Linked DNA regions of Homo sapiens. The protein of the gene in region 1 interacts with the protein of each later gene in a pairwise test. Each region holds a gene or a part of one and is shown in the gene's direction. Other genes may lie near its edges. The genes, in order: KLF11, TXNDC9, ZXDC, ERGIC1, LOXL4, OIP5 and KAZALD1.

Region 1 (3,780 bases):
TGAGAAGATTCCCTGGGATGCTGGCAAATAAGTTGCGTATCCTCTCTGTGTGGGTCTGAAGGAGTAGAAACTCTTCCTTTGGCCAGGCATGGTGGCTCAAGCCTGTAATCCCAGCACTTTGGGAGGGCCAGGCAGGCAGATCACAAGGTCAGGAGTTCGAGACCAGCCAGACCAACATGGTGAAACCTCATCTCTACTAAAAGTACAAAATTTATCCGGGTGTGGTGGCGGGCGCCTGTAGTCCCAGCTATTCAGGAGTCTGAGGTAGGAGAATCGCTTGAACCCGGGAGGCGGAGGTTGCAGTGAGCCGAGATCGTGCCACTGCACTCCAGCCTGGGCAACAGAGCGCGAGACCCCATCTCAAAAAAAAATAAAAGAACAAAAAAAGAAACTTTTCTTTCATTTCTGAAAAATGTGCTCTTTCTATGGATGGATCATACCTTGCTAGCTACGTGGTTAATGTCCGTGGGATGAAACCTACAGATTAATGTGAGAAAGTGAAATTTACTTCCCCAGGGGAATCTCGGGGTGGAGCTTAGGTTCTCCAGCCTAGTGTCAGAATATATCGGTAGCAGCTGGAGAAAGCATGTACTTTGACATCAGATTGCCTTCGTTGGGTGGCACCTCTGCCCTCCCGTGGCAGCCGACTCCTTAATGTGAGTTCTGTGAGTTGGGTGCAGTAAGTCACTCTTGCTTTTTGTTTTTTTAATTTGCTACATCTGTGAAAGTACTTGGAAAAATTGCATCTCAGCTTGGAGAAGCTGAGAACTGTAGGTTGCTAACAGAAGTGGAAATTGTGATTGTCCTGGGCTGGAAGCTTGCTCTGAAAGAAGAGTGTAGAAAGCAGATTTGGAGAGGGATAGGAAGGGCCTGTGGGTTGTCGGGAGGGTTGCAGAAGTGGTGGGCCTGGCGGCCAGGAGCTCCTCTCAGAGTTCCCTGCACTGGGCTCTTGTGTAGGTTTGGGAGAGGTAAACACGTTGGGAATAAGCTGAGAAAGCAGAGTGCCTCATGCAGCCTTGAAACCCACTGGGATGTTGAAAACAGGGTTAACTGAGTGTCTAGATGATTCTGTGTAAAGGTATTGGGAGCATTGTGATGAATTAAATCCCTTTTAAAATTTAAAGCAACCTTTTAACATGGTACTTTTTTTTTTAGTGCATAACTCCTCCTCAGAGCCCTGATCTCGTGGAGCCATCGACAAGGACACCTGTTTCTCCCCAAGTAACAGATTCCAAAGCATGTACAGCCACGGATGTTCTCCAGTCCTCTGCCGTAGTGGCCAGAGCTCTGAGCGGGGGCGCGGAGAGGGGCTTGCTGGGTTTGGAGCCAGTGCCCAGCTCTCCCTGCAGGGCCAAGGGGACTAGCGTGATCCGACACACTGGGGAGAGCCCTGCTGCCTGCTTTCCCACCATCCAGACTCCAGATTGCCGGCTTTCTGACAGCAGAGAAGGAGAAGAGCAGCTTCTGGGACACTTTGAAACTTTGCAGGACACACACCTCACGGACAGTTTACTCAGCACTAACTTGGTGTCCTGTCAGCCCTGCTTGCACAAGTCTGGTGGCCTGCTGCTCACTGACAAAGGCCAGCAGGCAGGGTGGCCTGGTGCAGTTCAGACTTGCTCACCAAAGAATTATGAAAATGACCTGCCCAGGAAAACCACCCCTCTGATTTCTGTCTCTGTCCCTGCTCCCCCTGTCCTTTGCCAGATGATCCCTGTGACTGGACAAAGTAGCATGTTACCAGCTTTTTTGAAGCCCCCTCCCCAGTTGTCTGTGGGGACTGTGAGACCCATCCTAGCTCAGGCTGCTCCAGCGCCTCAACCTGTGTTCGTGGGACCTGCTGTGCCTCAGGGAGCTGTGATGTTGGTCCTGCCCCAGGGAGCCCTCCCTCCGCCTGCCCCCTGTGCAGCCAATGTCATGGCTGCCGGGAATACCAAGTTGTTGCCCCTTGCCCCTGCTCCAGTGTTCATCACCTCTAGCCAAAACTGTGTCCCTCAGGTAGACTTTTCCCGAAGGAGGAACTATGTATGCAGCTTCCCAGGTTGCCGGAAGACCTACTTCAAAAGTTCCCACCTTAAGGCCCATCTTCGCACTCACACAGGTAAGCGCTGGGGCAGGTGGGGCATTGGGCACACCAGACCCTGTGGTTAGGAAGCACACCTTGAGCCGCCTTTGGCTGGGAGGGGATCATGAGAACCCCTGGCGAAGGTGGAAGTGTGGCTTTTTCTTTGGTTCTGAAAAGCCCGCACAACCTTGTAAGGGTGGGATTGTTTGCACAGCCATCAGGATTTTGCCTACAGAGCGCTCGCCCTGGAAGATAAAATGTAGTATAGTTCTGTGATTGTGTCTTTTGGTAGCTTTTAGAGTGACTTACAGTGCCCCCTTCTGTTCACATTGCAGTAGACGTTTCATCCTTTTTTTTTTTTTTTTTTTTTTAAAGAAAACATGCATTCATTCACATTTAGTAAATGTATCTTACCAGTGTGACTTATGTTTATGTGAGAAAAGGTCTGGCCAAACTATAGAAAAGTTCAAATTCTAAAATATTTTTTAAAAGAGTATAGTTTTCTTACCTCTGAGAGTAGTTTTTAATTTAAAGTAAGTCACACAAGAAACTATGCTGACCTAATGATCTCTCTGTTGTCTAACCAGCTCTGTCCAATATAATTTTTTGCAATGGTGGAAATGTTTGTTGTCTGTCCATTAGGGTAGCCACTGGCTGCTCACACTTGAAGTGTGTGGCTAGTGTGCCTGAGGAACTGAATTTTACATTTTTTAGTATTTGAAGTTTAAATAGCTCCATGGGACCTGTGGCTGCCCTGCTGCGCAGCAGTGGTCTGAGTGTTGCTGGATAGACAATCGCTTCAGTAGGTGAGGGCACCATTTCTCAGGTGTTCTGTGAGTTTGTGTTCTGTTGCTCTGATCGTGGTAGCCTCCACGTGTAGAATAAAGTGCAGTCTGGTGTTCAGACATTATAAGAGGAACTCTACTACTCCATTCTACTGAGTGGCTGCTTGCTTTGAGGATAAAGCCAAACTTGGCCCATGAGGTACTCACCTCTGCCCATTCAGAAACAGTCTCCCCAACATTCTATGTCTGGTTCCATATTTCCACCCTTCCCTCTTGGCCCTCTGCCCATCTCTACTTACTGAAACCCTCTGAGGGCCTTCCTAGGATTAGTTATTAGATTGTTTCTTTATCTTCCTTCTTTGACCCTAGTGGTTTATTGTAGGTCTTACTATAGTCTCCCTTTGTTTTTTAGTTAGTTGTATATCTCACCTGGATATATTCCTGGTGCTTGATAAAAGGGCCTGACACTAGTCAGTAAATGAGGGTTGGTTGTTTGCATGGCAGATGGACGTGGGGCTGTGTCAGGGAACGGGTGTTTCTGAGGGGAATTGACCTGCCTGCCTCTTTTAATGGGCTTGTTGACTTGGTGAGCTCTGCATTTCACCGGGACTCTCCAGGGGAACTTTGCATTACACCAGAGCACAGCTTCCAAATGTTGGAGGTGACTGAATGAAGTTTTACCGTTTATTTGGTTTACCTTGGTAGAAGTACTGACAGAATGACCTGCAGTGATTGAAACAAGTTGCTTCCATGTTTCCTAAAGTACTTCCAATTCAATAACAGGCCTTGTACAGGGGCTCACGCCTGTCATCCCAGCACTTTGGGAGGCCAAGGTGGGCAGATCACAAGGTCAGGAGTTTGAGACCAGCCTGGCCAACATGGTGAAACCCCGTTTCTACTAAAAATACAAAAATTAGCTGGGCCTTCTGG
Region 2 (3,780 bases), about 89 Mb from region 1:
CGGAGCTTGCAGTGAGCCGAGCTTGTGCCACTGCACTCCAGCCTGGGGGACAGGGCAATACGCCACCTCCAAAAAAATAAAAAATAAAAAAGTTACTACTGGTATTTTTTAATTTCCTAGAAGCATAATGGCCACATTTATTTAAATATTATTAGTAACCCTTAGCCTTAATGTGCTTCTTACTGACAGCGTTGCATATTTAGGAGTAAGAAGTTTTTCCTCGGTAATGCTGTTCAGTTTTTCTTCATGACTTCCAAATATGGCACCATGTGTGCACTTCTGATTCTTGTAAGTCTCTTCCGAGTTTTGTCAAGTTTCAGTTTGTTCCTCTTCAAGTTTCCTGTGTAGGAGATAGGACAACTTCCTTTATGACTTAAAGCATATATTTAATATTTTAAAAGAGAATATCATTAATGCAAATCTGACTTTCTAGAATCTTATAGGCTGTTTTCCCATCTCGTAATCAGGCAGCTAACCTCTGATCTGGAAGTGAGGTCATCTGACACAAGTTTAAGTTGGCTGCCATGTTATGAGAGTCAACAGAAAAACTACATAATTAGATTTCCCTTGATGATATTTATTTTGAAAAAAGCGATCTGTGGTTTTAGCTTATAATTTTCTATGTGTGGTCACTTACAGGTGTAAAATACTAGACAGACATCTGGCAATATTGTCCAAGAAACACCTCGAGACCAAATTTTTGAAGCTGAATGTGGAAAAAGCACCTTTCCTTTGTGAGAGACTGCATATCAAAGTCATTCCCACACTAGCACTGCTAAAAGATGGGAAAACACAAGATTATGTTGTTGGGTTTACTGACCTAGGAAATACAGATGACTTCACCACAGAAACTTTAGAATGGAGGCTCGGTTCTTCTGACATTCTTAATTACAGGTAACTTTTAACAAAAGAAGAGATTGATTTTAATTCATATATAGTTGATATTTTTACAAAAGATTTTTGTATTGTAACATTTATTTTATGAAATTAAGGCATTTTGGCTGAGATGTGGAAAGTTTCTCAAAGGAAAAGCATGTTTTTTTGAAGTGTGTAATATTAGCGTGATTTTACGGCAAAATCAGATTTACAGATTAAACTGATTTAATAGGTAAAACTGAGTCTCACCGTACTCCTGACTATAAAAGTTTTCAGCTTAACGTATACTATTGACACTAATTTTGTATTAATCTGGAAACTTAAAATGGCAATCCAGTGTTGACTATTCCCCAATTTAAGCCAGATTGCTCAAATGAATTCTGACTTAAGTGATTCTCTTTGATAAAATAAAAATTAAAAGCAGACTCTTGCAAAGAAAGTTATATTTTAAAATACTAGATTTTTAACATGGATATTTCTGTTTTACTTATAGAGGCTGATGAATAGAAAAAGGTTTCTATGCCTAGCTTACATTGCTTGCTATGAAGAACAGTTTTAGTTTGAAAACAATCTAAAATCCAACTTCCATTTCTTTGTCCACTTCTTCAGACAAATAATTTATCTAATTCCACAAATCAGAGCATATCATCTTGTCTTTTTTGCCTTTTCTTGATTTGCAAAAGTAACAGGTAAAATTGTGCACTTACCATTCCAGAGTCATGGTGCCTTTCAGGAAGTAGAAGGTTCTCTCACGTTTTTCTTTCTCCCCCATTTCCCTCCCGTCTTTTCTCTGACTCTCCTAGACATGCCGAAATCATTCCTATGTTGTAGAAATTGGTTTCATTTCCTTAATATTAACATAAAATATTAATATTTATTAAATAAAGTTATATATTTTGAAGTAATTTTAAGCCTTAAACAAATTGCAGCCGGGTGGGGCACTTGTGTAATCTCAGAAGATTACAGACTTTGAGAGGCTGAGGTGGGAGAATCAGTTGAGGCCAGGAGTTTGAGACCAATTTGGGCAACATATAGTGAGATGAGACCTCGTCTCTACAAAAAACTAGTAGAAACAACCCCCTGCAGACTAGTACAACGAATCCTCATTGACCCTTTGCCCATATTACCCAATTTTAAACATTTTATATTTGTTTTATCATTGTCTTTATAGATACTATGAAGTATTTTGGGAACCATTTGAGTGGAAATTGTGAATACAGTGTCCCTTTACTCCTAAAGACTTCCATATATATTTTCTAAGAACAAGAACATTTTCTTACGTAGCGACAGTACAATTATTGAAACAGGAATTATTGTGTAATTTACCGCTCTTATTTCAAGTTTTCTCATTGTCCCAATAATTGTCCTTCATACCAAAAATGCAGCACATTTAGTTATTACGTCTTTAGTTACCATTGTTATTCTTTGGTTCTTAAGACTGATGTTTTTGAAGAGTACAAACTGTTTATTTTGGAGAACATCTCCCAGTTTGGGTTTGTCTTAAATTTCCTCAAGATTAGATTCAGATTATCGATTTTTGACGGGCATATTATGGAAGTGATGCATCATATCGGGAGGTGTGTGATGGTTTCTCTCATTTCCGGTGACAACTGAGCACTGTGTTAACCAAATGTTAATCCATAATTAATGATAAAAAGGAAAATAGGTCTGGTGCAGTGGCTCATACCTATAATCCCAGCACTTTGGGATGCCAAAGCAGGAGGATTGCTTGAGCCTAAGAGTTCAAGACAAGCCTGGGCAATGTAGTGAGATGTCATCACTACAAAAAATGTAAAAATTAACTGAGCATGGTGGCACACGCCTGTAGTCCAAGCTACTCGGGAGGCTGAGGTGGGAGGATCGCTTGAGCCCAGGAACTGGAGGTTGCAGTGAGCTGTGATCACACCACTGCACATCAGCCTGGGCCACAGAGTGAGACCCTGTCTCAAAAAGAAAGGAAAATAAAATTGATCTAAAACATTCAGTAGGACACAATAAGGTTTAAGGCTATTAACCATCAATATCAATATAAGCATTATACCTCTTCCCTGACACCAGCATTTTAAAGAAATTTTATTCTATGTTACAGGAAGAAAACAAAGATAGATTTTTGTGCAGTTTAGTATACTAGTACTAAATCATAAAGAATAAAATGCTTTTTTTTTTTTTTAAGTGGAAATTTAATGGAGCCACCATTTCAGAACCAAAAGAAATTTGGAACAAACTTCACAAAGCTGGAAAAGAAAACTATCCGAGGAAAGAAATATGATTCAGACTCTGATGATGATTAGAGCTCAATAATTCTTTGTAAATTGTCTTTTTTTTTCTGCTTCAGATTTAAATGTGTTTTTAAAATTCTATTAATGTCTATACATTGGTCACCTAAATACTCATATTCTCGAGTTTTATACAGTTGTATCACATCGAAAAGTGTCTTTACTGTTTTCTGTGTGGCCATCATGTTTAAGTTGAGGAAAACTCAGTTCTTAAATTATCTGGGAAGGGTCTGGATTCTCTATTTTTGAGATTGACTTTATCACAATATGATTCTTACATCTTTATACCATTTACAATTGTGTTTTAGATCTACAGAGTTAGAAATTCGAAAACTATTCCAGGACTAATTCTTAATCGGCATTATTTATACAAGAGGTCAAGTAACATTTACTAGCGCAATACTGCACTTGTAAATGAATTATAAACGCTCTTCTGGAATATATTTAAATAACCATTAAAGAACTGCTTATTCATTCTGGACACTGCATGTTGATGTTGAATCAACTGATGCCAGCAGAAAGCTATTTTGATTTGTGAACATACTGCCTTATTTAAAGGGTCCTGATTGCTTGTATTTTAAGACATTCATTAAAAAGAAACCAGGAAACACTTTTGAAATAACAGCAT
Region 3 (3,780 bases), on another chromosome or scaffold:
CCTCTTGGAAGGCGTCAGGCAGTGGGGTTGTGGGCGTGGCTGCCAAGCCAAGTGGCCTCTTTTGCACTCTCTGCCACTTTCTTGCCTTTGACCCTCTAATCCCTCCCATGTCTTTTGTTTTTTGAGACAGGGTCCCTCTCTGTCACCCTGACTGGAGTGCAGTGGTGTGATCATGGCTCACTGCAACCTCAGGCTCCTGCTCAAGTGATCCTCCCACCCCAGTCTCCAGAGTAGCTGAGCCCACAGGCATCCACCACCATGCCCAGCTAATTTTTGCATTTTTTATAGAGACAGGGTTTCACTATGTTGCTCAGGCTGGTTTTGAACTGCTGGCCTTAAGCAGTCTGCCCACCTCAGCCTCCCAAAGTGCTGGGATTACAGGCATGAGCCACCATGCCCTGCCCCTCCCATGTCTTTGAAATGCTTTCCTGGAAGAATGTTTCACTTTGTTGACTTTCCCTAGCATATGTCCCCTAAGCCTGTGTCTCTCACTGGGACTTTTGTCCTGAATTCTGAACCTGCCCCTCCTGTGTTTCCGTCTGCCTCAGCTATTCTATCTCCAAGTAACAAAGGCTAGAGCAGAGTTGTGTTTCAGGAGTGGACTGGGAGTAACGAGGGCTGGAGAGGGCAGGGTTAGAGAGGAAAGTGACGGTGGCCTGGTGACCTGTGAGGGGAATGCTGAGTGTGTGAGTGCCTAGTCATTGGGCAGCTTTGCAGCATGGGACTAGGAAACCTACCCCACTAGGCCTTCTCCACAGTCCAGGATACAGAAGTGCCTGGCAGCTGTGGTGGCGGCCCCTCTGGGGAGCACACCCATGTGCCCTATTCTCTGGGCCCTGGTGCGGTTGTCGCTCCTCACCGGGCCTGGCTGATGGCATCCTAGCTGGCCCTAGAGTTACTTCTGCTGCTCAGTCCGTGGAGGCTGTGTGTGTCACCAACTGGGTCCTCACGTCTCCTGTGTGACCAGCAGCACCACAGCAGAGCACCGGCTTTGGGGCGCAGCTGTGTCACAGCTGCCGCGTTGGCAAGGGACAGGCCTCCATGCCTCGCACAGAGTTTGGTGAGGGGTTGGGCTCAGGGCAGTTCTGTGGCCTTTGCTTTCTTGTGATCCTATTTAGAAGTGGTCATGAAGCCCCTCCTTGGGATCTTGGACACTGATCTTTCACAGTTTACAGCAGTTGCCGTTCAGCTTTATATTTAAATAAATTGCCCTTCTGGCTTTAGTAGTGTCTTGAGGACACGGAATGTGCGTGCCACCTGATTCATGTTGGAGGGTGTCACCTTTGCTCACAGAGGCCCACATGACCAGGCCCCTTTTCTCTGAGGGCTCTGTGAGACTACATCACTTAGGCCTCTCCCCTGTTTGGCCGTTCCCTCTCATGGCACACTTCCCCTTTCCTGACCTGGCCAATTGAGAAGTCTGCAGAGGCCCAGTGTTATACTAGATGCACTTTCCTTAAACTCTAGTGGGATGTGAGACCCTCTTCTGTAGCAACCTATGTATCCCAGGATTGAATTTCCTGTGTGACAATGACTTATTTGTGTGTCATCCCCCTGCCAGCTGTCAGGGGTAGAAGACCAGGTGTCACCCTTTCGTCTAGTGAAAAACAGGCACTCGAGAACACCCAGTTACCGTGGGATTATGTCACGCCCTCAATGGGTTGTTTCAGTCCCCCTAATGGTGGTCCTGGGAGTGGGTTCCTCACTGCTTTGTCACTGATGAAACCAAGATAGAAAGGACTTGCCAGGGTCACACCTGCAAGAAGGGCTGGGGCTGGGCTTTGAACTGTGGTGATCATGACTGTTTTGCCAGATGCTCTGCTATCTAATGTTTATTTAGTGATTGTGTTAATATCTGGCCCTTGTACATGTCTGGTCTCTGGTAGTAAATGTTTATAGAATTAGTAAAGTGCTAAGTAAGAAATTTATTAATAAGTGGGTATCATTTGCACTGAGATTATTCATGATCTCTTCACAGGGAGCTGAGTCCTCAAGAGAGTCAAGGGAATTTTTAGGAAGTTTTGAAAAACTGACATAGTTTTCCATTTTTAATTTCTCCAAAGGATCACTACCATTTTCTTTCAAAATGCTTCATTGGTACTAAGGGATATTTATTGAAGAAGTGATACTATATTGATACTTTTTTTAATCTTTAAAGTAATATGACAACTAAAGAGGATACATTCTGAATTTGATTTTCTTTTTGTCTAGAATAGACTTCTTTTGTAGATTTGCATTATTAAAAATATAAAATATAATAGACATTCTGGCCAGGTGTTCACAGCCTGCAGGTATGAGCTTGGGAACAGTAACAGCTGGCATGGGAGAAATAGGATCAGAGAACCGAGAGCAGCTTTTCCTCTGGGCCAGGTGCTGGCACAGTCAGGAAGCTGCTGGGGACAGTCCTATGGAAAGCGTGACATCAAGTCCTTATTTGGCTCTTTTGCCCAAATTAATTATGCTCCCATTTTACTGTTTGCTTGATGCTTGAAGCATCCTGTGATTTGGTGTAATTGGCATGTACTTGTATACAAACCCTAAACTTGCCTATGCATTAAAATTTTTTGGAAGTCATTATTCCCCCAAAAGTATGCTGATTATTTAAATTACGTAGTTGAATAACAAATAATCAAATATTTAAAGAGTATTATGACCAGAAATTAAGACTCCAGATGAAGAAGGGCCTGTTAGAATCATGACATGCTGCAGGCGTGGTGGCTCATACCTGTAATCCCAGCACTTTGGGAGGCCCAGGCGGGCCGATCACGAGGTCAGGAGATCGAGACCATCCTGGCTAATGCGGTGAAACCCCGTCTCTACTAAAAACACAAAAAAATTAGCCGGGCATAGTGGCGGGTGCCTGTAGTCCCAGTTACTCGGGGAGCTGAGGCAAGAGAACGGGGTGAACCCGGGAGGCGGAGCTTGCAGTGAGCCGAGATCGCGCCACTGCACTCCAGCCTGGGCGACAGAGCGAGACTCCCTCTCAAAAAAAATAATAATAATAATAATTACATGCTGCATCAGGGCTGGGCACTGTGCTGGGGGCTGAGGGGACAGTGGTGGTCAGATGGCTCTCCACCCTCAGGAGGCTTGCAGTCCTGCTGGGGAAATGTGAGGCTGGAGATGCAGTGGTAGGGGAGGCTGTGGGAGGGAAAGCCCATCAGGAAAAGCTCCGTCTAGGGGGCCCCCAGCATGCCTGGAAGTCTTGTGCATCTGCCTAGAGCTGAAGCTTTGGGTCTGTCCTGGCTTTGCCAGGCAGCCAGTTTTATTTCCTTTGTTCACCCCTATATGGCTCCAGTCGGTTTTGGGGTGGCAGCTAGTTGTGGAGTGGAGCACAGAGTTTGGCAAACATGAGCTGACAAGCTGATTCGGAAAATATCCTCAGAGCACAGGCCAGCTAGCAACTGGCAGCTGAGTGGAAAGGTTCAGTCCTCTCGGGCAGCTCCGGTGGCACCTAGAGGGGAGAGGGTGCAGGCTTTGAAGCCAGAAAGACATGGATGCAAGTCTTACTTTGCTTCTTGCTGTTACCAGTTGGCCTGACCTTAGGAAATGTTATTTAATCTCTCTCCAGTTGTTTCCCCTGGAGAAAGCCCTGTCAGCCTGAGGATCCAAGACGCGTACGTAAAGTGTCTGATTTCAGCCAGTGTCCCTTCCTGTCCCTTCCTGGGGTGTGTGTCGGTTGCCCTGAGCGACCGGCCATGGGACTCTGTCGTGATAACCAAGCTTCAGGGTGTGGGAAGAGGACAGTCAGTGCTTCCTTGGGGCATCACTCGGTAACAT
Region 4 (3,780 bases), on another chromosome or scaffold:
AACAGAAGGACACAGAAACTACAGTCCCAAGTTTAGTCATTAGTGGGGTGGAAATCTGATTTTTTTAAAAAAATGTACAGAACTTAGCTTAGGGCCCATCCATCCATTCATTTTCTGTCCATCCATCTAGTCAACAAATATTTACAAAGTACCTACCGTGTCCAGGCCTTGCATACCTTGGTGAGGACAAACATGGTCCCTGCCCACCTGGAGCTTCCAGTCTAGGGGGGAAGACAGATGTTGATCAAATAATGGTACAGGCCAGGTGCGGTGGCTCACTCCTGTAATCCCAGCACTTTGGGAGGCTGAAGCGGGCGAACTGCTTGAGGTCAGAAGTTTGAGACCAGCCTTGCCAACATGGTGAAACTCTGTCTCTACTAAAAATACAAAAATTAGCCGGGCGTGGTGGCAGGCACCTGTGATCCCAGCTACTCAGGAGGCTGAGGCAGGAGAATCACTTGAACCTGGGAGGTGGAGATTGCAGTGAGCTGGTATCATGCCACTGCACTCCAGCCTGGGAGAAAGAGTAAGACTCCTCCCAAAAAAAGAAAAAATAAAAATAAAAATAAATGGTACAAATAAATGTGAGATAAAGCCATGTCACATGACAATGGAAGAGAACATTCTAGCCTTCTTGTCTCTGTAACCACCGTTCTCATGGGTTAGAAATGAAGCCTTCACACGGTCAGTCTCAAGACAGCAAATAGACAAACTTCCTTTTCCTTGTTGAGAAATTGCAGTTCCTTCCAGTTGTTGAGGAATTGCTTGTTGAGAACATGCAGGTGTGTTAAGTGCTCAGTAAACATCAGCCGCCTGAGACCAGGATCAGGGATTATGCCACCCCGCTGCTGCCCACTGCTCCTGGAGTGGCCACAGAATCATGTCCCCACGTACCTCTCCGATGTCTCCTCCTTCCTTCTATTCAAACACCTCACTCTCCTTCCTCCTGGGGGCCACGTGGGCCTGTCTCCATACTTAAGCCTTTGTACATGCTGCTTGCCAGTTTAACTTCCCACTTTCCTCCAGATCTTGGTGTCAATGTCATTTCCTCCAGGAAGGCCTCCAGGGTGTCTAGCTCGATAACCCCTGTTAACCATGCCCATGGTAGCATGCTCCATTTACCAGGTATGCCTTGTCCTTCTTTAGATGTTCCTTGAGGCCAACCTGGTTTCCCATTGTCCTCAGAGAAAAGGTGAGATGTGGTTTTCAGCCCTACTCTACAGCAGCCCACCCCACTGCCCGGAGGAGGGTTTTCTTCACATCTGCTATACGTTCTCTGCAGCAGACATGATGGGGGGCCCACAGCTCTGGGGCATCCCTGCCTGGACTCCTCTATGGGCCTTTCAGAGGACCCTGGGATCTCAGGAGAAACTTTCTGGGACCCAGAATCCATGTTCACTTGAATTTTCTGTGTGACTTCATGGAAAGAGTCCAGCTTAGTGTCAGACAGACCTGATTTCAGAGTTTAGCTTAGCCACTTACCAGCCGGGCAAGTTTTGGTGTCTTTCCAAGCCTTGATTTGCTCTTCTGTAAAATGGGCCCAATAATACATCATTAGGGGCATGAAATGAAATTATATGAAGGGGCCAGGATGGAGCAGCACATAGTAGGGGCTAGAGATGGGAAACAAGCTTGTGCCTACTATGTGCCAGGCCCCTGCTGCCTCTTGCTCCCCACAAATCCGCTGGAGCCCCCTTTTACACATTGGTAGGGTTCCTAGACCAGGTGGTACCTGGCCATCCCCCACAACCAGGGCCAGGCCTGGAGGTGGAGGTGTCCTGGGGACCATCCCCTCACTGCATTTTTCCACAGGTCCAGAACATCCACGGAGCTTTCAATGCTCTCGGGGGAGCAGACAGACTCACCTCCAACCGTATGTATCCCTGCTGGGAACAGCCTTCTGCTCCAAGATGCCCAGTACAGCAGGCAGGGAGGGGGAGGGCAGAGAGGTGGGGGTGCCTGTCCAGCACCCACTCCAAGGCAGGGAGGCTGCTGCTCACACTCCATTCCCACAGCTAACCAGTGGGAAGGTGGACCCAGCCCCGTCCAGACCCAGACCCTGATGGAGAAGGAAGAAGGCTTGTCCCGGGGCACAGCAGACGCACGCACGCAGTGGATACCAGCTATTACCATTATTGTTGCTCTCATCACAGCCACATCATCATCCTTAGTTGAACTAATTACCTAAGATCCCACAGGGAGCTATGGCAGAACCAGGATCTGTTCTGCCTCCAGGTCGCACCGTGAGAACAGGTCTGTGGGTGGCCCAGTCAGCTGTGACCACATGGCTGCCTCCCCCACACCTCACTCTCCTCCTGCTCAGACTCCTCCCATCGATAGTGGCTCCTCCTAGAGTCCTCGCCCTCCTTAGCTCCCTGGCACCTTGGCCCAGATCAAAGAGAACCGCACATCTCCACACGCAGACAGGAGAGCACGCATACCTTTCGTGCACACCAACACACATGAGCTCACATGGCCCCAGACACGTGCACAGAATGGGCCCGGGAGGCCTGTGTGCTCAAGCAGACCTGCAGACCCACTGCTGCACAGGGTACCTGGATTTTTCTTATTTCCTCACCTGAGCTCACCTTTTAACCCACATCTTTTCTTATTATTTCCTGAAATGCGTTTGCTCTCCCATTGTCAGGGATCCAAGGCAAAGAAAACATCCCTCTGTGACCTGCCCCCCCGACAAATCGAACCTCATTTTTCTGTGTCCCTGTGAGTCCTTGTCCATAAGCAGAACTCACTTTTCTTTTTTTCCAAGGCATGGATTGCAGTTTACCGTCTGCTTTTTGTACTTGACCTTATTACATAGCCACGATTTTCTTACTTTCCAGTTGTAATGGGAGCACAGTTGTCCATCTTGCAGCTCTGCTGTGCTTTTTTTTTTTTTTTTTTGAGACGGAGTCTTACTGTGTCACCCAGGCTGGAGTGCAGTGGCACAGTCTCGGCTCACTGCAACCTCAGCCTCCCGGGTTCAAGCAATTCTCCTGTCTCAGTCTCCCGAGCAGCTGGGATTACAGGTGCCTGCCACAATGCCCAGCTAATTTTCTGTATTTTTAGTTGAGACAGGGTTTCACCACGTTGGCCAGGCTGGTCTTGAACTCCTGACCTCAGGTGATCTGTCCCCACTCTGCTCTGCTTTTCTAAGTCATTGTCTTCTCACCGAAAGTGTCTGTCGTTTCCTGTGTTTCACTGTGGCAATAATGCCTCTGATATGTACAGGGTTGGCGCTCTGTTACCCGATTGCTTTCCAGCTGTGTCTGGTTCCCATTCATGCTGCCTCCAGCAACGGATAAGTATACGGCAGCACCTCCTTATTTGAGTGCAAATGTCTGGTTGTAATAGAGGTAGATGATTCTTGGTGTGGTGCCGTGGTCATTGTCGTTTTGTGTCATGGTAACATGTCATCCGACGTCGGCCGTCCACAAATGTCTGCAGCTACGATGGACCCTCAGCTGCTGGACAGGAAAGAGGATCAAGCTAAGAAGGCCCAGAGTGTGCAAGCAGAGAGAGGGTGTGGACAGAAAACCTTGCCTTCTCCAGGGCTAGTGGCGAAAGCTATCTCAGGCTGGCTCAAGTGGAGAGAAAAAAGCATGAGATCAAGCAATGGACAGCTGGGGAAGGGCTGGCTTTTATTTCCTCAGCTCCCAAGCTCAGTCCCTGGCACTGGGCCGTTGCCTTTGTAGGTCCCTCTGTGCCCAGGTCTTGCTATGGGGGTTGTTTCTTGGCATTAAGGTCTCAGTTCAAACGCCACCGTCTCCAAGAAGCCCTCAC
Region 5 (4,556 bases), on another chromosome or scaffold:
CTCAGCATGAGAGGTGGCTGGGCCCTAGGAGAGGGCTTAGGCATACCTGGCACCCAAGCCCACAGCTGCCTCATTGTCCCTGGGGGAGGAGCTGGGCTGCTGCCACTGACCCGAGGCTGGGAGCATTCTTTCCTGCTGATTCATCATGGGGAATGTTTTGGGCCCAGCTGGGGTGGGGCAGGGGCACTGGGGGGACATCTTGGACACGGGCAGCCAGGAGTGGATGGCAGGTCCCTGGCAGCAGGGTCATTAAGACCTGGCTGTCACCCAGGATCGAAAAGGTCCATCTTGACATCCTAGCTCTATCACACTCTGCCTGTCCAGGCTTATTCTTACTTGCACATCTGCCTCCCCCACCAGACTGGGAAGGCCCCCTCCAGCGTCTAGCACTCCAGCACCCTGTCTAGCATGTAGGAGAAAATCAATAAAGGCTTGTGGGATGAATGAACCTTTGGAAGGACGTTTAGGCAAGGTGGGGGCAAGAGGGGGAACCAGGTTGGGCAGCTGTGGGCCTAGGGAGGAAACCGGGAGGCTGGAACCCTCTGCCCATTTTACAGATGGGGCCAGTGAGGCTAAGGGCAGGACCAGGTCTAGGGGAAAGAAACTGGGGGCTTGGACTGGGGTTCAGGCACCTAGGTGCTCAGTTCAGCTGATGGGACTCCTCTCTGTCAGCCATGTCCACATTTCTTTAATTCTACAGTCCCTGCTCCCTGCACTAACACCCTCCTCCCGTGAGTCTGACAAGGGCCAGGACTGCATCATTCAGCTCTGTGAAGGGGTTCTCCCATTCACTGTGTATTGCCTGGAGGAGCAAGTTATGTCGCCTGGGGCTCAGTGTTCCCAGCTGCACAATGGGCAGCGCAGAGTTTCACACGGAGGGCGGGGGGGGGGGGGGGGGCGGTATTCAGTAAACTCTGGGTGACTCGCCTGTTCCTGCAGGAGAGCACCGCTGCACCGCGCCACCTCGACCTCTCTGAACTGAGCCCCGGCCTCCCAGAAAGGGCGTCTACATTGTCCTAAGTGACCGAGCTCGTGAGATTCGGCCCCTGTGACAGCCGGGCGCTCCCGTGCGAAGGGTGCTGTGCCGGGGGCCCTGGCACCCACCAGGACTCACAGACTGGGACTCTAGGTGGGCGTCATTACCTTGTTCTGCAAAAGAGGAAACTGCCTGGGAGAGGGACTCCCGAGGCCGCCGCGGCCCTCCCTGCAAAACAGCCGCGGGCCCAGCGCCGCCCTTTCCCGAGAGCTCCGCTCCCCGCGACCCCCCGCCGCCCCCCCGCTCCCCCCGCCCCCCGGGACTTCCCGGCCCCGCCGGCTGCGGCTGGGCGCCCCCGCCACCTGGCCTGTGTCCCGACGGGGGGCGCCGCGCGGAAGGCCGGGCGGGGCGCCCGCGGACTCCAGGCCCGCCCGGGGCGGGGCCTGCGGGGCCTCCTCCGCGGCCAGCTCGGGGCTGGGGGGCCGCGGGCGGGAGGCGGATAAAAAGGCCCCAGGGCGCCCGGGGAGGGAGCCCGTTAGCGCTGCTCCGCCGCGGCGCCCGCCCAGCCCCGGACTGTCCGCGCTCCATCTGGTGAGCCCCCGCCTGGCCGCGCGTCTGCCTCTTGGTCTGCCTCTTGCTGTCCCATCTGTCCTTCTGTCTCTCTGTGAGTCTGCAGGCCTCTGAGGGTTCCTGGAGACTGGGCCTAGGGTGCATGGGGGATCCCTTGGACCCTCAGCCCGGCCCTCCAGTCGCTCACCAACCTGCTTCCAACTGGACAAGTGACCACGCTGGGGAGCTTGGCCCAAGGCCCGCCCTGAGTGGTGCGCCCAGGCCTCAGGGGTGCCTGCGTGTCTTGTTTGTGTACACGCCGTGTGTAACCATTGCTCTGCCTTCTTCCAGGGAGGAGACAGGGAAGGGGCAAGGCGGGTTCAGATGTCACACTTACGACTTGGGGGACAACGAACCAGGGCTGATCTGGGCTCTCCAACTATCCAGACCGGAGCTGATTATGTTGGGGGGTCGGCGTGTGACAGAAACACCGAAGGGAAGGGGGCAGAAGACTTCAAGCCCCCTCTTTCCTAGCCTGGACAGGTACAGCTCAGAGACCATTTGTTGGCACTGCTTCAGGTCCACAGAGTCAGTAACCCCGGGGAGGCTACAGGGCTGAGAGGAGGCTGCTGAGAAGAGCTGCCCAACGGCAGAGAAGGGATGAGCCATCCTAAAGTTGCTGCACCCTCAGGACAGCACCCCCCATGCTCTCTCTTGAATACTCGGGCATTTGCTGTCTTCAGCCCTCCCTACCTGCGCTAGGTCAGGCCAGGTCCCAGCATCTCCTGGCACACCTGGAGCAGGTGCCTCTGTGCCTCAAGCTGGCAAGATCTTGGATCTGTCACTCGGCATTCAGCGAAGAGCACCCTGCCCAGTGCCCTCACACCACGGCCTGGGTCATAAATCCACCAGAACAGGGTGGAATTTCAGTCGGCTCCCGGCCTTCCTTTCCTCCTCCCCCTCTTCCAACATCCATTCTTGGTGGTTTTGAGAGTCCGGCGTCTAGCCAGGCTGCTTGGGTTTGAATCCTGGCTGGGCAAGTTACTTGACTTCCCTGGACCTTACCTTCTCATCTGTAAAATGGAGATAAGTATTTAATCCGTATTTTAAAATGTATAGTTATTATCCTCACTTCCCTCCCCTCCTCTTTCCCTTCCACCTTCCTTCCCTCTTCTGTCCCCTTCTCCTTTATTTGGGAAAGTAACGGCCACTTTCGAGGCCGCTTCCTTCTCTGAGGGAGGATGCACAGCTTGGTCCTCTGTGCTCAGTGCTAGGGGAACAGACAGGTGGAGTCTGGTTGTGGGGTCAGGAAGCAAACACACAATGTGCTTTGTGGAAGGCTTTGTGGGAGGGCTTAATGGAGGGGGTGGCATTTGAGCTGGCCTTGTGGGATGTGTAGGAGTTTAACAGTCTTAGATAGAGGGAAAGGAACAGTGAGAGCAAAGGCTTGGAGGCTGGGAGACGAAGGCTATAGTCTGGTGTGAGCAAAAGCTCTCGGGGGCCTATAGTGGGCAGGAAGGCCAATAAGAGGGACTCTCCCTGCATCTAACTCTTGGTTCCCGCTGCCGTCCCCCCACCTTCCAGCAGCGTTCATGGAAGGGAGCTTCCCTGGCCCAGACCCCAGGGTCCTACAGCAGAAGCCCTCCCATGCCCTCAGGTTGGTCCCTTGGAGAGGAAGGAGCTGCTGGCCTGGGACTGTCCACAGCCTGTAACAAGACCTCCTCAGTGTGTCAGGGACTTCAGCCAGGAGCCAAACAGCAGACCTGCCCAGCCTACCCTGGGCCCCATCAGAGCATGTCGGATAGGGGGGCTGTCTAGTGCCACCCCCTCATTTTACAGGTTTTTCAGCTGAGACTCAGAGAAAGGAAAATATTTGACTCCAGACACAATTTGGCGGCAGAGATAGAAGCATTCCAACTCCTGGGGGTGGTAGAGAAGGTGTGGTTGTCACTCAGCCCAGACCCATGTGACCACTGGGTCCTAATAGCTGAGGGACCTGAGGCCGATCTGTCCCATCCTTTCTTGCCATCTGGGGAGTGGTTTGGCTCAGTCCCTGGCTGTCTACCTCCTACTCCAGGGAGCACGGAGGAGGGAATGGGAAACAATGGAGAGCACTCTGCTCATGGGACAGCCAGCTGGGAGCCCCCACAAGCCTCTGAGTGACATGCAGAAGACAGTGTTTCAGTCTGGAAAGGAAGCGTGGGAGGGGTCAGAGGGGGAGAGCTGCAGAGGTGAGAATGGGAAGGCAGCCCCTGCACAGCCTCAGGGAGTGGAGAGGGGAGCATCTAGGCTCTGCAGTGTGGGTGGAGGGAAAAGGGGCAAATCTAGAGAAGGCTGCAAAGAGGAGTACCAAGGACTTGCAGTTGAGATCGGACGTGGCCTCCATTTCCTTCTTTGTACAGAGAGGAGGTGGGACCAATCTAGACCAACGGTTCTATCGTCGCTGTCACAGTAGCTGTTAATAATAGTTCATTGTTGGCCGATGTAGTGGCTCACGCTGGTAATCCCGTCACTTTGGGAGGCCAAGGCGGGTGGATCACCTGAGGTCAGGAGTTCAAGAACTGATGTGGTGAAACCCTGTCTCTACTAAAAATACAGATAAATTAGCTGGGCATGTTGGCGCATGCCTGTAATCCCAGCTACTTGGGAGGCTAAGGCAAGATAATCACTTGAACCCTGGAGGCGGAGGTTGCAGTGAGTCGAGTTTGTGCCATTGCACTCCAGCCTGGGTGACAAGAGCAAAAATCTGTCTCAAAAATAATAATAATAATAATAATAATAATAATAATAATAATAATAATAGTTCATTGTTACTGAAGGCTTGCTCTTCTAAGGATTTAATGTTTCTTCACTTAATCTTTACAAAAATCCTATGAGGTAGTTACTATTATTATCCCCACTTTACAGAGGGAGACACTGAGGCAGGGAGAAACTAAATCGCTGGCCCAAGATCACTTCCAAATGAACTGGTGGAGGCAGGATTCGAACCCCAGCAGTCTGACCGCCCAGCCTGTGCTCTCAAGCACTGTGC
Region 6 (3,780 bases), on another chromosome or scaffold:
GAGCTGAGATCACGCCACTGTGAGATCACGCCACTGCACTCCAGCCTGGGAGACATAGTGAGATTCTGTCCAAAGGAAAAAAAAAAAAAAGTAGCTGGGCATGCTAGTGCACACCTGTAATCCCAGCTACTTGGGAGGCTGCGGCAAGAGAATTGCTTCAACCTGAGAGGTGGAGGTTGCACAGTGAGCTGAGATTGCACCACTACACTCCAGCCTGGGTGACAGAACAAGACTCTGTCTCAAAAAAAAAAAAAAGAAAAAAGACAAAGTGTTTGTACCAAAAAGATGCTAAAGTCAGGCACTGTCTTTGACAAAAAGATAGCAGTGGGCCAGGTGTGATGGCTCGCGCCTGTAATGCCAATGCTTTGTGAGGCCAAGGTGGGAGGACTGCTTGAGGGCAGGAGTTCAAGACCTCCATGGGCAATATAGTGAGACTCCTGTTTTTTTTTTATACAAAATTTTAAAAAATTAGCTGGATGTGGCGGCGTGCCCCTATAGTCCCAGTTACTTGGGAGGCTGAGGTGGGAGGATCACCTGAGCCCAGGAGTTCAAGGTTACATTTTGCTGTGATCATACCACTGCATTCCACTTTGGGTGACAAAAAAAAAAAAAAGCAGTGGGACCAAAATATAATCTTATAACATTATGATTATCTTCCATGTCTTATCATACCATATCTTAAAAGTCATACCATGGGAAAATTCAGAGGGTATTCTTTCATTAAAGAAACTTGTTGCCAGATGTGGTGGTGTGTGCCTGTAATTCTAGCTACCCAGGAGGCTGAGGCAGGAGGATCACTTGAATCTTGGTGTTTGAGACCAGCCTAGGCAACATGGTGAAGCCTCCCATCTCAAACTGCTCCCTTATGGGCCGGGTGCAGTGGCTCACGCCTGTAATCCCAGCACTTTGGGAGGCTGAGGTCGGGGGTTCACCTGAGGTCAGGAGTTCGAGACCAGCTTGGCCAACATGGTGGAACCCCATCTCCATTTAAAATACGAAAATAAGCCAAGTGTGGTGGCACACGCCTGTGGTCGCAGCTACTCGGGAGGTGAGGCAGAAGAATTGCTTGAACCCAGGAGGCGGAGGTTGCAGTGAGCCAAGATCAAGCCACTGCACTTCAGCCTGGGTGACAGAGCTAGACTCTGTCTCAGAAAAAATAAAAATAAATAAAAGATAAAAAGAACATTCTAGAAGGCAAGCTTTTGCAAAATAATGTTGCAGTAGATACCTTTTGGGTTTGTGCCCAGCCTCTCTCTCCCTCTAATAGGTGGGGCCTTGTATATTTGTATCATGTGTGATTTGTATCATGTGTGATTCCCACTCCCAGGTACTGGATCAAGAATGAATACCTGGCCAGGCATGGTGGGTCATGCCTGTAATCTCAGCACTTTGGAAGGCTGAGTTGGAGGATTGTTTGAGCTTAGGAGTTTGAGACCAGCCTAGGCAACATAGCAAGACTCTGTCTCTACAAAAAATTTAAAATATTAACTGTGTATGGTGGTGTATGCCTGTAGTCCTAGCTACTCTGGAGGCTAAGGTGGGAGGATAGCTACAGCCCAGGAGTTCAAGGTTACAGTGAGCTATGATTGTGTCACTGTATTCTAGCATGGGGAGCAGAGCAAGACCCTGTCTCTTAAAAACCAAAAACGGTGCTGGGCGTGGTAGCTCACGCCTGTAACCCCAGTACTTTGGGAGGCCGAGGTGGGCAGATCATGAGGTCAGGAGATCGAGATCATCCTGGCCAACATGGGAAACCCCGTCTCTACTAAAAATACAAAAAAAATTAGCTGGGCATGGTGGCGCATGCCTGTAATCCTAGCTACTTGGGAGGCTGAGGCAGGAGAATCACTTGAACCGGGGAGTCAGAGGTTGCAGTGAACCAAGATCGCGCCACTGCACTCCAGCCTGGCAACAGAGCGAGACTCTGTCTCAAAAAAAAAAAAAAAAAGAAAAATGGATACCTGACCCAAACTAAGCCAACCAGTTTTCTACCTTAGGAATTTGAAACAAGGGCCCAGAAATACCAGTTACGTGTAGATAGTACTAGTGTTGAAGTTTGGAAGTGAAAGCTCTATGTATGGGATAGCTATTTCCCATGTGATGCATGTAGCTGCAGGGAAGTCTTCTCTGCAGTAAAACATGAAGCAGACACAGAGAAAAGTAAAAATAATGATCATGTAGCCTCATAGTGTCAGAAAAACTACCCTACTGGTTATCCTTTCTCATGAATTACATTGGCTATTTCATTATTTTCCTAATAAATTGCACTTTTAACTTAAGCTTTTTTACTTATTACAAGAAACTGAAACATCCTTAGAAGTCTTTCCTTGACCATTAAAAAACAAAAACAAGCATTGACAACCTAGTTTATGTAGGCATTATGCTTATATCACTGAGTTCTTAATATAGTTTAAGAAAACTAGGGCTCAAAGAGGTGGAAGAGCTGAGATTTGAGCATGTCTTAACTCAAAAGCTTATTTTCCTTTCATAAAACTAAAAGGTTTCCTTTTTCTCATGTCTTTTTTTTTTTTTTTTTTTTTGAGATGGAGTCTTGCTGTGGCGCCCAGGCTGGAGTGCAGTGACGTGATCTTGGTTCACTGTAAGCTTCACCCCCTGGGTTCACACCATTCTCCTGCCTCAGCCTCCCAAGTAGCTGGAACTACAGGCGCCCACCACCACGCTTGGCTAATTTTTTGTATTTTTAGTAGAGACGGGGTTTCACTGTGTTAGCCAGGATGGTCTCGATCTCCTTGACCTCGTGATCCGCCCGCCTTGGCCTCCTAAGGTGCTGGGATTACAGGCATGAGCCACCGCGCCCGGCCGCTTTTTCTCATTTCTTATGCTTAGATAGATGTTTTTAGCTGAGTTATGGTTGACTAAACAATAAAACTTATCAGCCAGTCCTTTACCATGGGTTGCTCACTGTGCATTAGGTATACCATTTGTTCTTCATTGCAAATTTCCAACACAAAATATATACCTGAGATCCTGAGATGGATTGATCATTCTCTTTTTTTAAAGACGGAGTCTCACTCTGTCACCCAGGCTGGAAGTGCAATGGCATGATCTCAGCTCACTGCAACCTGCACCTCCTGGGTTCAAGTGATTCTCCTGCCTGGGCTTCCCAAAATGTTAAGATTACAGGCATTAATCACCATGCCCAGCCTCAATTTTTAGATTCTTTTTTTTTTTCTTTGAGACGGAGTCTTGCTCTTTCGCCCAGGCTGGAGCTGGAGTGCAGTGGCACCATCTCGGCTCACTGCAAGCTCCGCCTCCCAGGTTCACGCCATTGTCCTGCCTCAGCCTCCCGAGTAGCTGGGACTACAGGCGCCCGCCACCATGTCTGGCTAATTTTTTTGTATTTTTAGTAGAGACGGGGTTTTACCGTGTTAGCCAGCATGGTCTTGATCTCCTGCCTTGGCCACCTAAAGTGCTGGGATTACAGGTGTGAGCCACTGCGCCACCAATTTCTAGATTCTTAAGCAATTTCTATTTAGAATTAACTTTAAAGTGGGAAAAAAAACTGTAAATGTGTGCTGTTAGTAATCCCACATCTTTTTTAGAAATCAGTACAAAAGTAAATGTTCTAGAGAAGCAATAATTGCATTTTTGTTAGGGCAGTAAGCTTTTAGTAACATATTTTTAACATAAATTTGAAAAGCATTATGGGATTTTGGTTAATTTCTTAATCTTTAAAATGAGTTGGATAAAAGGTCAGGACATTCTTTTTGATTAAGTAGAAACTTTGGCCTTTTCCTCTTGGATTCGGGATGGCTGCTG
Region 7 (4,280 bases), on another chromosome or scaffold:
AGCTCCGTCCCCAAGGTGTTTTGTTAGAGTCAGAGACCTCTCCTTGGGTGATTCCATTCGTCAGCCCCACAAGTCCCCGTCTCTGGCCTTTTTCAGGGTCTCCGGCAGCTCTCTGACAGTTCCCCTTCTGTCTCAGGTCGACACTTATTCCAAGGACCAGGGATTACTCACAACTATCCGCCAGAGTTTGCTCCGCCCTTTCTTTTTCCTGTTTAAAATCCGCGGGCTCTTAGTGTTCTCGGTTCCTAGATTTCCTGTTCTGATTCTCGCGACAGTTGCGAGGCCTCGCGTGAAGTTCCCTTCTAGTCCCTATTTCGAATTTGAGACCGGGAGAGAGTGTCTGCCCTTGCCCACCTCCTCAGAACCCCTCTGGCCAGGGATGGCGCCTACGTGGCTCGGGAGCCCCTGAATGAATGGGCTTGGCCCAACTTAGGGGCGCATTCCGACGGGAGAGTCCTGGCTGTATTCCGAGGCTCCAGTGCGCATGCGGAGTCGATCCCGCGCAGGCGGGCGGGGACGGCAGCCGGGTCTTGTGGGCGGAGCCTGACTAAGTGCCGCCCCCTTGCCGGCTGCAGATTGCTATTTCTGCCCCCCACCCTCGCCCATCCCCCCGCGAGCTGGACTGCGCCAAGGCTTCTGTGAGCCGCTTGGGGCCGGCCGGGGCGGGGCCTGCCCGACCCGGGTTTGGCTGGCGGGCCCCTAGGAATGCTCTCCTCCCCGCCCCCGGCCCAAAGTGCCACGGTGGCGGTGGTGGCGGCCGCGAGGCCGAGTGTCTCCGGCCCTGCCAGCCTCGCAACCGTAACCTGTAATCCCGACCCGAGGGACGCCCGCCGGGGAGGCGCCAGCCCGCCTCTCCCTGCGGCCGCTGGTCGGCTCCGACCTCGAATCACCCGGCTCACCCGCGGGTCGCAGCACCTGCCGGATGTGGGGAGGAAGAAGGAGGCCAGATGAGGGAAGGCGGATGTAGGCGCCCAGTCTGTCCGCGCCTTGGTGGGGCAGCTGGGTGGGCAAGCCTGCGGTCGCTCCCGGGAACCAGCCCTGGGCTGCGGGGAGACGAAGGTGGTTGGTCCTGCCCTCCAGGAGCGCCCCGACATCGACGTAAAATGACTTGGCACCAGAGCTCCTGCCGCCTCCCCCTTATGCAGCTGCCCTCGCCGACGCCAGGGACTGTAAAATCAGATGGGACAGGGCCTAGCCGTTCAGCCAACACTTTGAGCTTCCCAGCCAAACTCCTACCCCCACTCCCCGCCTCCGGTCCTCACCCCCTTCCTCTCTCCCAGCCTCGGTGTCTGGTTACGGCTCCTCTGCTCGCATTGTGACTTTGGGCCAGGCTGGGGGAAATGACCCGGGAGGGTCCCATGCGGCTACATAAAATTGGCAGCCTTAGAACTAGTGGGAAGGCGGGTGCGCGAAGTCGAGGGGCGGAGAGAGGGGGCCGGAGGAGCTGCTTTCTGAATCCAAGTTCGTGGGCTCTCTCAGAAGTCCTCAGGACGGAGCAGAGGTGGCCGGCGGGCCCGGCTGACTGCGCCTCTGCTTTCTTTCCATAACCTTTTCTTTCGGACTCGAATCACGGCTGCTGCGAAGGGTCTAGTTCCGGACACTAGGTGAGCACTCTGTGCCCCAGGCCATAAGCGAGGCGGCATCAGCCCCCCCAGTTCTCACCCCCCATTAGCAGCTTCTTACTTCTGGAGCCACCCATTCTCTTTGGGCAAGGATGCTCAGGGGCCAGGGATCGGAGTCGGGTGGTGCACGGAAGTGGTGCTGGTGGTGGGTGTGCGTGCGCCTGAGCCTTATCACCCTTTCCTCACCTCTCTTCACTCCCAGCCCTCCCAAGAACAGCCCAACTGATTGCTAACTGCCATAACTGGATAATCCCTAGAGGGTCACTAGGCCTGTGTGTTGGGGGAGGCTACTTGGTAGCAGGGGAGGGGGCGATGCTAGTGTCATGCTTTGGTACAAGAAGCAGTGAGGTTGGTCTTTCGGCACAGGCCCTGTTTCTGACCTCCTGACCTGGCTTCCCTTCCTGGCAGGGTGCCCGAACGCGCTGATGCCCCGAGTGCTCGCAGGGCTTCCCGCTAACCATGCTGCCGCCGCCGCGGCCCGCAGCTGCCTTGGCGCTGCCTGTGCTCCTGCTACTGCTGGTGGTGCTGACGCCGCCCCCGACCGGCGCAAGGCCATCCCCAGGCCCAGATTACCTGCGGCGCGGCTGGATGCGGCTGCTAGCGGAGGGCGAGGGCTGCGCTCCCTGCCGGCCAGAAGAGTGCGCCGCGCCGCGGGGCTGCCTGGCGGGCAGGGTGCGCGACGCGTGCGGCTGCTGCTGGGAATGCGCCAACCTCGAGGGCCAGCTCTGCGACCTGGACCCCAGTGCTCACTTCTACGGGCACTGCGGCGAGCAGCTTGAGTGCCGGCTGGACACAGGCGGCGACCTGAGCCGCGGAGAGGTGCCGGAACCTCTGTGTGCCTGTCGTTCGCAGAGTCCGCTCTGCGGGTCCGACGGTCACACCTACTCCCAGATCTGCCGCCTGCAGGAGGCGGCCCGCGCTCGGCCCGATGCCAACCTCACTGTGGCACACCCGGGGCCCTGCGAATCGGGTACGCATGGCCCGGGGCCCCCACCCCAGCACTTAGGTTTCCTAGAGGCACTGCTCCCCGACCCCTGACAGCATTGGTCTCTGGCCAGCAGAGCAAAAAAGATAAGGCTATAGAGGCCTCGAGTCCAGTATAAAACCCTGCTCTCGCTACTGGTTCATAAAAGCTGCCACCTTAAGGTGGGGGTGGGGGGTGGAGTGGAGTGGGAGTCCCGGGCTTCGTCAGCAAGCTGCATTCGCTGAACCACGTGAAAGCTCCAGAGCTGGCTGGCAGGGAGAGACAGGTCCTCTGAGGGCGCAGGCACATAACCTATGGTTTGCTCAGAGACCCCCCCGACTTTTCCCAGACCAGTGGAGTCCAGGCAGCAAGACGGGTTCCTGTGAGATGCAATCACGTTTCATTCTTAGAGCAGTTTGTTCACCCAGTCTCCCCACCTCTCTGCTTTCTCCTGCTTTTAGGGATTAGTGAAGGGGAGCGGGAAGTTCTTTCTCTATCCCTGGGGACTGGGGTCCATTCAGGCCTCTAGCTTTCCTTGGTAGCTTTAGTAACTTTCACTTCCTGAGCCCGGGCTCTGCGTCTGGCTCGGCTGGGGCAGCCAGAAAACAAACACCCCGTGGGGGTCCCAGCAATTTCCTCCACTCCTGCAGGCTTCCTGCCTGTCGCACAAGTCCAGCTTCAGGTTCTCTGCCTTGCCGCAGGACTCCCCCAGGGGGTACTGAGGAGGGAACGGCTGCTTTTCCTCCTTTGGGAACTGGGCCTGTTTAGAAAAGGGGAAGGGGGATCTGGAAGGTTTTGATTACAGGCACGCAGGAAAGGCTGGGGAGGGTGAAATGAGGACAGGGGAGCAGTTAGGGACAGAGTGGCTGCCAAGCTACAATGTAGATGTGTGTGCTTGTTTGTGCATTGGGTCTGCATGAGGTTCTATGTGCACATGTGCATGTATACCTATCTCCACGTCTGCGTGGTACCCTTGTGTGTACCAGCATCCATATCTGTGTGTACCTGTGTGTGTCACGGTGTGTTTATGGATGTGTATTTACCTCAGCATATATTGTGTTCTGCCACAAGCATGTCCACAAAAATTTGTGTATCATGTCTTTGCCAGACTGGATGCCTTTGCTGGGCCATGCTATTCTCAGACCTCCCGCCTTCACCCCCAGGGCCCCAGATCGTGTCACATCCATATGACACTTGGAATGTGACAGGGCAGGATGTGATCTTTGGCTGTGAAGTGTTTGCCTACCCCATGGCCTCCATCGAGTGGAGGAAGGATGGCTTGGACATCCAGCTGCCAGGGGATGACCCCCACATCTCTGTGCAGGTAGACTGGTGGGAGAGGCTTCCCTCAGGCAGCCCAGGGCCCTCCAGAAGGACCCTGCTGATTCCTTGCCTGGCTCCAGTTTAGGGGTGGACCCCAGAGGTTTGAGGTGACTGGCTGGCTGCAGATCCAGGCTGTGCGTCCCAGTGATGAGGGCACTTACCGCTGCCTTGGCCGCAATGCCCTGGGTCAAGTGGAGGCCCCTGCTAGCTTGACAGTGCTCACACCTGGTAAGGGGATTCCTGAGTTCTGGGGGTTGGGGGGATGGTGCTGGATTCCAGTTGTGAATGTGTAAGAAACAGACCATGTGTCTGTATACACAAGCATAGCCTTCCGCAGACTGGGCTATGTGGGCACCGACAGCCCCTCTCTC

What was found.
Region 2: the proteins of KLF11 (region 1) and TXNDC9 interact in binary tests that used the Homo sapiens proteins (3 or more experiments, as listed by UniProt).
Region 3: the proteins of KLF11 (region 1) and ZXDC interact in binary tests that used the Homo sapiens proteins (3 or more experiments, as listed by UniProt).
Region 4: the proteins of KLF11 (region 1) and ERGIC1 interact in binary tests that used the Homo sapiens proteins (3 or more experiments, as listed by UniProt).
Region 5: the proteins of KLF11 (region 1) and LOXL4 interact in binary tests that used the Homo sapiens proteins (3 or more experiments, as listed by UniProt).
Region 6: the proteins of KLF11 (region 1) and OIP5 interact in binary tests that used the Homo sapiens proteins (3 or more experiments, as listed by UniProt).
Region 7: the proteins of KLF11 (region 1) and KAZALD1 interact in binary tests that used the Homo sapiens proteins (3 or more experiments, as listed by UniProt).

The regions. Positions count from the first base shown.
Region 1 is NC_000002.12:10,046,495-10,050,274, forward strand, and holds part of KLF11 (Krueppel-like factor 11), read left to right. Parts: intron 1-1,155; coding exon 1,156-2,101; intron 2,102-3,780. UniProt on the Homo sapiens protein: Transcription factor. Activates the epsilon- and gamma-globin gene promoters and, to a much lower degree, the beta-globin gene and represses promoters containing SP1-like binding inhibiting cell growth.
Region 2 is NC_000002.12:99,319,069-99,322,848, reverse strand, and holds part of TXNDC9 (thioredoxin domain-containing protein 9), read left to right. Parts: intron 1-639; coding exon 640-894; intron 895-1,065; exon of another isoform or gene 1,066-1,723; intron 1,724-3,049; coding exon 3,050-3,167; 3' UTR 3,168-3,780. UniProt on the Homo sapiens protein: Significantly diminishes the chaperonin TCP1 complex ATPase activity, thus negatively impacts protein folding, including that of actin or tubulin.
Region 3 is NC_000003.12:126,462,292-126,466,071, reverse strand, and holds part of ZXDC (zinc finger protein ZXDC), read left to right. Parts: intron 1-3,780. UniProt on the Homo sapiens protein: Cooperates with CIITA to promote transcription of MHC class I and MHC class II genes.
Region 4 is NC_000005.10:172,924,697-172,928,476, forward strand, and holds part of ERGIC1 (endoplasmic reticulum-Golgi intermediate compartment protein 1), read left to right. Parts: intron 1-1,812; coding exon 1,813-1,873; intron 1,874-3,780. UniProt on the Homo sapiens protein: Possible role in transport between endoplasmic reticulum and Golgi.
Region 5 is NC_000010.11:98,265,143-98,269,698, reverse strand, and holds the start of LOXL4 (lysyl oxidase homolog 4 precursor), read left to right. Parts: upstream 1-1,504; 5' UTR 1,505-1,567; intron 1,568-1,876; exon of another isoform or gene 1,877-2,068; intron 2,069-4,322; exon of another isoform or gene 4,323-4,556. UniProt on the Homo sapiens protein: Catalyzes the oxidative deamination of lysine and hydroxylysine residues in collagen and elastin, resulting in the formation of covalent cross-linkages, and the stabilization of collagen and elastin fibers.
Region 6 is NC_000015.10:41,315,550-41,319,329, reverse strand, and holds part of OIP5 (protein Mis18-beta), read left to right. Parts: intron 1-3,780. UniProt on the Homo sapiens protein: Required for recruitment of CENPA to centromeres and normal chromosome segregation during mitosis.
Region 7 is NC_000010.11:101,060,512-101,064,791, forward strand, and holds the start of KAZALD1 (kazal-type serine protease inhibitor domain-containing protein 1 isoform a precursor), read left to right. Parts: upstream 1-1,477; 5' UTR 1,478-1,604; intron 1,605-2,030; 5' UTR 2,031-2,081; coding exon 2,082-2,592; intron 2,593-3,694; coding exon of another isoform or gene 3,695-3,749; coding exon 3,750-3,910; intron 3,911-3,989; coding exon 3,990-4,137; intron 4,138-4,280. UniProt on the Homo sapiens protein: Involved in the proliferation of osteoblasts during bone formation and bone regeneration. Promotes matrix assembly.